3 linked regions of the Homo sapiens genome follow. The protein of the gene in region 2 purifies or fractionates together with the protein of the main gene of each other region. This does not show direct contact. Each region holds a gene or a part of one and is shown on either strand. Other genes may lie near its edges.

Region 1 (3,653 bases), on a different chromosome or scaffold from region 2:
ACAGGTGTGAGCCACTGCGACGGGCCACATACTAAGTTTTTAAAATGCAATCAGTCTCTCATTAATCAGTTTGATTACATGACATGGTAATTTTTTAATGTGAAAAGTTGTTACTAAATTGGTGGTTTGTCTTTCTAGATGTTATTTTAGAATCAGGGCAGTAAGGGTATATGAGGTTCTTACCTCATTTAATCCTCAAAACATCCCCATTTTACAGTTGAAAAGTTACTAAATTGATGGTTTGTCTTTCAATAGATGTTACTTTACAATCAGGGCCGCAAAGTCATATATCAGGCTAGTGCTAGGCACTCCACAGTGTTTATTTCATTTAATCCTCACGATATCCCCATTTTACAGGTGAGAAAAATTTAGTTTTAGGTTAAACACTGCTAGATTACTCACTAGTGGAACAAGAAGAAATTAAGCTTCAAATCCGGTGTGCTTTTCAAACTTCTGTTCATAAGTTAGAGAACACCTGTGGAAAGTCTTGTCACTTAAGACTGAAAACTTAATACAAATGATAGTGATAACTCATTTCGTGTGAATGTTTCTGATGGTTGGGTATGTCTTTTCCTACAGGAGAGTAAGTATAAGAATGAGCATTGAACTACAATCAGTTTCTAATCCAGTTCACAGAAAGGTTGGTATTTAGTCCTTTTTTGAAATATCATTTCGGTACATTGTAGACAATTAGTTTTGTTCTTTAAGAATGTGACATCTTTTATTGCATTTATTTTGCTTTTACATTTTAGGCTATTTTGCAACTGTTGGAAATCAAGGGTGGTGGAATCTACTGAGACAACAACTGAAGGATAATTATACTATATATTTCTTTTTTTTTTTTTTTTTTTTGAGATGGAGTCTTGCTCTGTCACCAGGCTGGAGTGCAGTGGCACGATCTCGGCTCACTCACCTCCCGGGTTCAAACAATTCTCCTGCCTCAGCCTCCCAAGTAGCTGGGACTACAGGCATGCACCACCACGCCCAGCTAATTTTTGTATTTTTAGTAGAGACGGGGTTTCACCATGTTGGCCAGGATGGTCTCGATCTCTTGACCTTGTGATCTGCCCACCTCGGCCTCCCAAAGTGCTGAGATTACAGGCTTGAACCACTGTGCCCGGCCTATACCATATATTTCTAAAACATACGTGAAAAATTGTGGGGTGGGGTGACATTCTCCTTAGATTTGCCCAGTGCACTTAGAAGTTGCATATTATATATATATAATAACATATATATAAAAATATATTTTATTGCTGTTGGTCATACACACACACACACACACACACACACACACACTGCTGCCTTGTAGAATTGGCATTTCATGGTATAAATGTAAAAACAATAAACCGAAGTACTGCAGGGAGATATTTGTGAATCTTTTACTTTACGTTTTGAAGAGAGGCATTTAGAGTATCAGTCTCATATAACCTTCAAAAGTGTGAGTCATTAACAGAACTAAGGATATAGAATAGAGGAGGGGTCCCCAACCCCCTGGCCACTTACTGGTACGGTCTGTGGCCTGTTAGGAGCCAGGCTGCACAGCAGGAGGTGAGTGGCAGGCAGGGAAGCGAGTGTAACCTCCTACGATCCACCTCCTGTCAGATCAGTGGTGGCATTAGAGTCTCATAGGAGTGCAAACCCTATTGTGAACTGTACATGCAAGGGATCTCAGCTGTATGCTCCTTATGAGAATCTAATGGCTGATCTGAGGTGGAAGTTTCATCCTGAAACCATCCTTCACTCCCTAATTCTTGGAAAAATGTCTTCTACAAAACTGGTTTCTAGTGCCAAAAAGGTTGGGGGCCACTGGAACAGAGAACTAAGAAATACGGCATCTGTGCCAAGGGCAGTGCCTCACACCTGTAATCCCAGCACTTTGGGAGGCTGAAGTAGGCAGATTGCTTGAGCCAGGAGTTTGAAACCAGTGTAGGCAACATGGTGAAATCCCATCTCTACAAAAAAATACACAAATTAGCTGAATGTGGTGGCACACTCCTGTAGTTCCATCTACTTGAGAGGCTGAGGTGGAAGGATCACTTGAGACTGGGAGGTTGAGGCTGCAGTGAGCTGTGAGGGTGCCACTGCAACCTAGACTGGGCGACAGAGCGAGACCCCATGTCAAAAAACACTGAAATATAGCATCTGTTTTCTGTGTGCCATAGCTTTCCCTGAACACATTCAAGGACCTAGTAGTATTAATAGTACCTTTGGTTTTTTAAGTAGCATCCTGGGTGAATTTCAGGAAGTACTTAAATAGAAGCTGCTTAAGAACAAGGCATTCTGAGGCAGAGCAGGTGCCTAAATTACTAATTTTCCAGAGTAGAGATGATATATTATACTTCTTACATGTTATTCCTTATGCCTGCTGTACCTCTTCATTTTCTAGCTTGGTGCATAAGTGGTTTAGATTTTTCTAGGATCTTAGCATTTCCTCAGTAGACATGAGTAGAGATTTTATTTCAAATGAATTCTTAACCTTAATGCCCAGTTCTTTATTAGTTTTACATCATCTTGTAACTAATGCTGTTTTTCTTTCACCAGTGTTCTCTGGTACATAATTTTGGTGTACTTTTTGTGAGCTCTAGCTGTTATGATGGTCTCCCACACTATGTACACGTAGCTACCTGGAAAGTGATCTTTATGAAAGGTACTTACTTCATTTGAGACTGAAAACAGTTGGGCTTCCATATCAGTGGCCACCTGGCCTAGGAGAGAATAGGCTCTTTGGAAGAAGCCTGGCAACGTGTTACCTGATACCCTGGTCTTCTGAGAGACAGAAGCTCTTTTTTCTAGTGTGGATTATTGTCAGTTCTGCTGATATATTTGCCACTTTTGAAATGCCATACCAGTTAACTTTAAGGAAACTAAAAATAAAATTGAATGTGGTATGTTCAGTGGTAAAGAAAATTTTCATCATGTTATGGTGTAGCAAGGACTGGGTCTAAATTTCCCCAAGCCTCTGATAGGAGGATATTCCTAAACTTTCAACTCCTAGCACTTGCTTAACTTTTACAGACCTCCATGTGGCTTTTAAAGAGCGGAATGTCTACCCCTATTTAAGATTCTAACTCTCTAAAGACTAATAAAAAACCAGCAGCACTAGAAAACAAAGCTGTCTGCAATATAACTATGATACACTGATGTTGTTGGATTTCTTTACTTCTGAGAAGAAATTACTCAAAAGGCCAGATCTAGTAAAAACATTTAAAAACAACAAACTTTCTTTTAGGACTTAGTTATTCGTCTGACTGATGACACGGATCCATTTTTTTTATATAACCTTGTTATATCTGAGGAAGATTTTCAAAGGTAACTAAATTTTTTTCTGATCTTATATTTAGTGAAAAAATAAGTTTCTAAGTTTTATTGGTACTGTTCTCTTTCAAACACATACCTACATATTAGATTTAGTTACTTTGGGAATATTGGGCTATTTGTACTATCTTTACTTAGGGTGTTTTGGAAAATAAATATTTTGTGGGTTATTAGAATTCTGCTTAAAACACCTGTGAAGTTTGAAGCTTTTGCTGAATTTATTGATTTTTTTTCCCATTGAATACGTTCTATAAAAATCAGAGTTCCTTAGCTTAGTTCTTGATTATAACAAGCGTTAGTAAATTTGAAAAAAGAATCCTTCAGGATGCTAATTA
Region 2 (3,753 bases):
GGAATTAAACAGCATTAAGGGCCTTCTGATTTTTAAAAAATTACAAAATTATGAACACAAAATTAGGTATGACGATGGTTATTTAGAATGAGAAAATAAATTGTAAATTATAACAAATGAAGAGCTCTCTGGCATTTAGGAGAAATGCTCCCTGGTTGCAACTCCCCACCTGTTAGACTACAAATCCCAGCGACCCATGCAAGTGAACATAAATTTCATTAGCTTCACCGTAAAGTTGTCTGGCGGCGGGTCGGGGGTGGGTAGGAAGAAGTGTTATCTCCATTTTTAGGTTGAGCAAATCACTCAGTATTGCAGAGTGGGAATCTGAAAATTATGCAAATAGACTCTAGAGCCCTCGCCTTTACCCCCACCCTGCTTCTTGTCAATATCACTGAGTGTGCATGAGGGTCTCGTTAACGACGGCTGAGGGGGAGACGATGAAGTAAGAGGAAAGGCTGAACAAAGGGCAAGAGAAAGGCAGAAAGAAGCTCCTAAAGAAAGCTGGACGCAATTGGGCTCCGCAACCCTAATGGAGAAATGCGCCTTAGGAGGGAAGGGGAGAAGTTTAAGGGGAAACAGGTAAAATGAGGCAGAAGTTGAGCAAGTTAGTCAAACCCTAAATTCTTTTACTTATTTACAAAACAGCCTGGCGCGGTGGCTCTCGCCTGTAATTCCAGCACTTTAGGAGGCCGAGGCAGGAGAATCGCTTGAGGCCAGGAGTTCAAGACCCCCCTCTCTGCAAAAAACAATTTAAAAATTAGCCGGGTGTGGTGGTGCGCAGTTGCGGTCTCAGCTACTCGGGAGACTGAGGCGGGAGGATGGCTTGAGACCGGGAGGCGGAGACTGCAGTGAGCTCTGATCGCGCCACTGCACTCCAGCCTGGGTGACAGAGCCAGACCGTCTCTAAAAATAATAATAGCAATAACAAAATAAAAATAAATGTACTGCACCCAACTATGACCCAGGAGTGGCATGGGTTTCCGCAGCGCAGCGGCCGCGCCTGGGCGCCCCAAGCAACACAACCAGCGCTGTCAGGAGGCGAATAGGAGCCAGGACAGAGAGCTGGGGAGGCCACTGCTGTCAGGCGAGGGATAAGAAGGCCGTCCGCGGCGTCACTGACGGGGCTGAAGGAACACCAGGAGAAGAGTGGCAGACAGCTCCGGAGCCGCGCTGCCCGGGCGACGCCGGAAGATGGGCCTCCCAGCGGTCTTCCTTTCAGCCAATGGCCGCGAGATGCGCCGTCCGAGGGTGCCCCGCGCGGCACAGGGAGGGAACAAGCAGCCCATCGGGTGCAAGAAAGCACTATCTTTCTAGGTGACTATGCGAACTACCAGGGAAGTGTAGCTAGGGACAGGCTTCTCTGCCCGCGGTTAACCTAACTCAGTGCCACCACGCCTTTAACCTGAAGCCAGGGAGCACGGCTGCCCTCAGTAAAGATGGCTGACTGGCGCGGAGAAAAAGCCGGAAGCAGCTGGGCTTTGCAGGGAGCCGACTGAGCGCTGCGGGGGCGTGGCCTGGCGGTGGAGGGGCGTGGCCAGCCGCCGTAACCTGGGTTTGCGATCTTTGAGGCGCGCGCACCGCACCCGGTCCCGACTCTGTGGCTTCCTGGGGGCGGGTTCGCCGTCGGCCCCGCCCCCGCCCAGGTGTCTCCCTTTGGGAAGCTGCCCGCCGAGTCTCCGAGATTTGTCCCTGGTGGTCCCGCGGACCCCTCGTCCCTCCGCAGTCTCCGGCTGGCAGCGATGGAGGGCGCTGGGGAGAACGCCCCGGAGTCCAGCTCCTCTGCCCCTGGGTCCGAAGAGTCTGCCAGGGATCCACAGGTGCCGCCTCCGGAGGAAGAATCGGGGGACTGCGCCCGGTCCCTGGAGGCGGTCCCCAAGAAACTCTGTGGGTATTTAAGTAAGTTCGGCGGCAAAGGGCCCATCCGGGGCTGGAAATCCCGCTGGTTCTTCTACGACGAAAGGAAATGTCAGCTGTATTACTCGCGGACCGCTCAGGATGCCAATCCCTTGGACAGCATCGACCTCTCCAGTGCAGTGTTTGACTGTAAGGCGGACGCTGAGGAGGGGATCTTCGAAATCAAGACTCCCAGCCGGGTTATTACCCTGAAGGTAAATTCCTGCAACGACTTTCTCCTTTCCAGCGGCGTGAGGTCCCCTTTTCGCAGGGCAAGGCTGGGCGCGAGTGTGAGGTGGACACAGTAAATTTGGAGTGTCGGTGACGACAGTTCCAAGAACTTTGTGCTTTGCAAAGTGCATTCCCACCCATTTCCTCATTGGGTTCCCACAAGGCAGGGAAGACAGACCCATTTTACGGATCAAGAAACTGAGTCAGAGGGAGATGAAAGGACTGGCTCGAGGTCCATGCGTCTAGAGAGTAGGGTAGCTTGGAATCCCATAGTCTTTCTACCTCTCAGTGCTGAATCAAAACTTTTACTTTTGGGTGTGCCTGACAGTGCAGTTACCTTAACTTTCTTACCTGGGACCTAAGTAAGTCAAAATATGGTCTTTGCAATCCTCTCTCAAGGCCAGGATTCTGATTCCCGTTTCTTGATATTTTGGCCAAGGTCAGTGAATGCTGAGAAGAGACTGGCAGGGATTAGGAAAATAAACACTTAGGTTTCACTGATCAGCCTAGATTGTTCATCTAGGCATGCTTAAACCTGTTTTCCTATCAGCAGCAAGGGGTAGGTTTTATCATCATGTGTAACTGAGAAAGCCTAAAGCAGTAGAAAGGCCACATTCTTTGAAATCAGACGGGCTTGGATTCAAATTGTACATTTGCTACTTACTAGCTGTGTGACCCTGGACAAGTTACTTAACCTCTCAGAACCTAGGTGGTTTGTAAGCATTTGACACATCACAGGCATGTACAAATTGTTGAATTAATTGCATCACCTAGAATACAGCCTGGTACCTAGTGGAGTACTTAATAATTTTTTGTTGCATAAGCACACATGCACACACAAGGTGATGGAACCAAGGTCAGAGTGCTAATGTCAAGAGGAGGTGTCCCATAACTTAATTGGAAAGACAGATCTGGGCTAAGTGTTCTATGGGCATCAGAGAAGAATGTGCCAGGAGATAGCCTTCCCCACCCCATCCCCATCTGTCCACCCCTCCAACCCCAACTCCAGCTAAGTGGGTATCTGTGGATGCCCACGTGTTCAGTTCTCCTTTACTGACTGGACTTGGCGGGTGACCAGGCTGGGGGACTTGGTTAAAATAATGAAACTCAGGAATCCCTGGCCAGGGAAGGCATTTTCGAGGTCATGTGGTTCCCGGGTCTATGTGTCTCTTCCACAGGTTGACTGCTGTATGCAGGGTCTTCAACACATGGTCTTTATAATAGTATTCCATTGTTCCTGGCTCTGCGCTTGGCGGGGTGTGGAGCTAATGCACCCCCACCCCTGGTTCTCTGACAGCTTAAAGTCTGGTGGGAGAGACTGAGGGAGAACCTGCATGCACCCTGAAATGTTCTGTAGAGACATGTGATAAGTCTGTGCAAGAAGGTGTGGTGACAGGAGGAGTCAGTTCCACCAAGTGGAAGGGGCTAGCCAGAAAGGCATCTGGAGGAGGGACACACCCAAGGCTTGAAAGAAGAAATAGGTGGCAAGCAGACAAGAGGGAGAAAGGTATTCCAGGCCAAGAGAGCACCGTGAGCAAATTAGGAAACCATGATACAGCCCTGAGTGTCCAGGCAAATCACATGAGCCAGAAAAACAGAGGGGCCCAAAGGATGGAGTTGAAGAGCAGA
Region 3 (3,653 bases), on a different chromosome or scaffold from region 2:
TGTAGATTCTGTGTAAATAATTGGTAAATAATTTCTGAAGGTTTATCAAGGTCTATGGATACCCTTGAGAAAAGATTAAAGAGTGAAATTAAAGAGATTACAATAAGCAGTAACCATTGAAGTAAAAAAGGAATGATAGCTACCTTTTATAAAGCAATTATTGTGTGCCAGGCAATGTGCTAAGTATTTGCTATGTAGTTTCCCATTTAATCCTTTGATCCAGGTGACAGTATTCCCATTTTACAGACAAAAAATGTGAGCTTCAGGGAGGTGAAGTAAGTGGCTTAAAGTTAGCATGGATTAAAAATGATAGAGCCAAGATCGAAACCCAGGTTTCCCTGTTATTTAGTGAGGGTAGGAACTCTAGCACCCTGCACCATGCCTAGGTTATCTCTTAAAAAAAAAGAAGGTAGAGTGCATACAGAAAATATATTCAAGGCTATTTTTAAAAATTAGCTTTAAATGCAAGTGTGGTTCAATTAAGATCTTCAGGCCAGGTGCAGTGGTTCATGACTGTAATCCCAGCACTTTGGGAGGCGGAGGCAGGCAGATGGCTTGAGATCAGGAGTTCTAGACCAGCCTGAGCAACATGGCAAAACCTGTCTTTACAAAAGATACAAAAACTAGCTGAGCGTCGTGGCATGTGCCTGTAGTCCCAGCTACTTGAGGGGCTGAGGCAGGAGGATCACTTGCGCCTAGAAGGTTGAGGCTGGAGTGAGCTGTGATGGCACCACTGCATTACAACCTGGGTGACAAAATGAGACCCTATCTCAAAAACAAAAAACAAAAAAAAGTTTTTAAGGTTATTGGTTAAAAAAAAATTTTTTTTAAGTTTGAGGACTTTCTTGATGAGCTAAAGGCCCCCATATCAGAGCATACTAATTTGGTGCTGAAGTTAGTATTTTTTATCTTCCAAATTTAGCTCCTGTGATACCATTTATAATTCTCTAACTTTGCACATCACCCTCTTGGTGGCTTTTCACACACCCACATGAAAACAATGGATGCCATTATAACGTAATACTTGGGTATCTCCTTCTTAGATACCAACTCAGAGGATTTCAGTGGCTTTCCGTATTTATAATATGCAATATTCAGGCAGCTTTATTTAACTGAAGAAAACTCATTGGCATTTTCAGTTAACCAGAATCATTTTAGAAAGCAGAGGAAAATTAGAAATATATCTTTTAAATTAGCACATTTTAGAGCATGTTCTGTTATTTGTATAGATTGAGCCTAACTGAGTACGCTGATGGCCAGTTCAGCTAAGGATAGAAACTGGAATTCACAAAGGTCCTTACCGAAAGAACATGGAACAAAAAATTCTGAGCACGTTGACAGAAATTAAGTTTGAAACATCATGGCCAGGAACCCAGTCATTTAAATAGATGAAGAGTCAAGCGAATAAAATAATCCAAAGCAGTTCAAGAATGCAGCCTGTGTGTTGTACTTCCTACAGATAGTACCTGAGATGGAGAGAATCTTCTGGCTTATTCAGTCAACAAAGATTTTTTATGCAACCACAGTATACCCTTGGCATTCACAATTTTAACGCTTTCCATTTTAACCATTACATTTGACCCCTGTGACATGGAATTATTTATAATTTTGCTGAGACACAAATTTGAATGTGACTTTAAGATTAATGTTAATCCTTTGGGAGGGGCCTGAGTGCCTCAGAATCCATGGCGCTCTGCAGAGGCCGGCTTGTTAAAAGTCTTAAAGGAAGGTCATTTAAATGCTTGTTATACTATACTTATTAAATTTGAAGGAGAAAATTACATGCTGTAGTTGTGTTTACAAATTTTAAAACTTGAGAAGGCCACGAAATACATTCTTCAGTGGTCTTTGCTCCTTTGTTCAAAATGCTGTTTCATTTCTACTGGCTCAAACTTTTAACTTGCCATTTCTCCTGGGAAAACAGATGGAGCAAAGAAATGAATTCATGGACTGCTCCCAGTGGAAGACAAGTAAAACACCGAGTGCAATTGTAGATTATGTAGAAGATTGCTTGAAAGGGGCAAATCCTGCCCCAAGGTCAGTTTAAGAAATCATTAGAAAGGGGCGTGGTTAATCCTCACCTTGGATCTGAGAGTGTTGGATTCTTCCTCCAGTTTACATGGTTGTAGAATCCTGTTGGCTTCCTAGGTTGTACATGAAAACAGGAAATCTCGGGCTATAAATTACAAGCCCTCAACATTTTATCGGTGCTTGATTCAACTATTGCAGTACAAATTGTTAAAATGTCAGCTTGACTTCACTGTCTTTTCTGTTTTTCTTTGCTGGTTAATAAGAGTGCCCTCCTGTGTCTTTAGGATGTAATGTCATTTCAAGCTTTTCAAAGGTCATATTTTATCATAACCTCAATAGGTTTTTTCCTTCATGATTTCCTCAAACTCTGAAAAGCTGCGTGTGACATAAGGCTAAGTTACATACCTTTCTCAGTAATGGTCTGTGATAAAGATGGATATTTTACTCTTAGGCATTTCAGAGTCCAAAATTATTATTCTGAAGATTAAATATTTTATACTTAACAAGGCAAAAAAATATATCGGGCCAAGCACAGTGGCTCACACCTGTAATCCTAGCACTTCAGGAAGCTGAGGAGGAGGATCACTTGAGCCCAGGTGTTCCAGACCAGCCTGGGCAACATAGTGAGACCCTGTCTGTACAAAAAAAACTAAAAATTAGCTAGGCCTGGTGTCTTGTGCCCGTAGTCCCAGCTACTCAGTAGGCTGAGGTGAGAGGTTTGCTTGAGCCCAGGGATTTGAGGTTACAGTGAGCTGATTGCACCTCTGCACTCTAGCCTGAGTGACAGAACAAGGCCCTGTCTCCAACCAAAAAAAAAAAAAAAAAAAAAAAAAAAAAAGATACACTGATGACAGACTTTTGGTAGTAGTAGTTGAATTGAAAAAAAAAATCTGGCTTACCTATGGTCAATCAGCAAAGCCAGAAGACTGTACTAATAGAAGTATTACAGCATTACTCTTGCTATAACCACGGTACCACAGTAGCATATTTGTTTTGTGACTGGTTTGCTCTGAGTACTCATATCCCTCTGGCATTTGCTCTGATGTTCAGCAATATTTAGTTAACAGTTCACAAGGGCCCAGGTTGCAGCATGGCCACCAAGTCATTCCACATGGAAAATACACTCCTGGTTTGCTGAACACCAGCAGAGGTCCAGGCATAAACCAACCCTCAGGTCTCCATCATTCATGTATTTACTCAACAAATCTTCTGAACACCTGCTCTGTACCAGGCATTGCTCAAGATACTAAGCATATTGCAGTGAACAAAACAGATTTATCCCCAGCCTATATGGAACGTGAAGCCTAGTGGGTTTACTGTCCAATTCAAGCAGTATTACATTGAATGTCCTGATTAGAGATACCCTTGGGCTCAGGCTCAAATATTTTTGTTACATGTAATGGTCAAAACTGTATTTAATTGTATCCAGTAATATGCTTTCTGAAAATTTTAACAGATAAGGCCAAATTGCTCACTAGTTTTCCATTGTACAGGTAGTATATGAGAATGCATTTTCCCCACCCTTGCCAATGATGCTGTTTCTTTACTTTTACTATTTGTCTTCTGAATGTAACTTTCTTCTTTGATCTATCCTCACATGCTCTCAGTCTACTATAGACTTC

What was found.
Region 1: the proteins of TBC1D2 (region 2) and SASS6 purify together in Homo sapiens (affinity purification with mass spectrometry; one large-scale study listed by BioGRID and IntAct). This does not show direct contact.
Region 3: the proteins of TBC1D2 (region 2) and INTS9 fractionate together in Homo sapiens (co-fractionation; one large-scale study listed by BioGRID). This does not show direct contact.

Annotation. Positions count from the first base shown.
Region 1 is NC_000001.11:100,122,869-100,126,521, reverse strand, and holds part of SASS6 (spindle assembly abnormal protein 6 homolog), read left to right. Parts: intron 1-579; coding exon 580-640; intron 641-2,544; exon of another isoform or gene 2,545-3,232; coding exon 3,233-3,312; intron 3,313-3,653.
Region 2 is NC_000009.12:98,253,528-98,257,280, reverse strand, and holds the start of TBC1D2 (TBC1 domain family member 2A), read left to right. Parts: upstream 1-1,631; 5' UTR 1,632-1,739; coding exon 1,740-2,108; intron 2,109-3,753. UniProt on the Homo sapiens protein: Acts as a GTPase-activating protein for RAB7A. Signal effector acting as a linker between RAC1 and RAB7A, leading to RAB7A inactivation and subsequent inhibition of cadherin degradation and reduced cell-cell adhesion.
Region 3 is NC_000008.11:28,883,385-28,887,037, reverse strand, and holds part of INTS9 (integrator complex subunit 9), read left to right. Parts: intron 1-3,653. UniProt on the Homo sapiens protein: Component of the integrator complex, a multiprotein complex that terminates RNA polymerase II (Pol II) transcription in the promoter-proximal region of genes.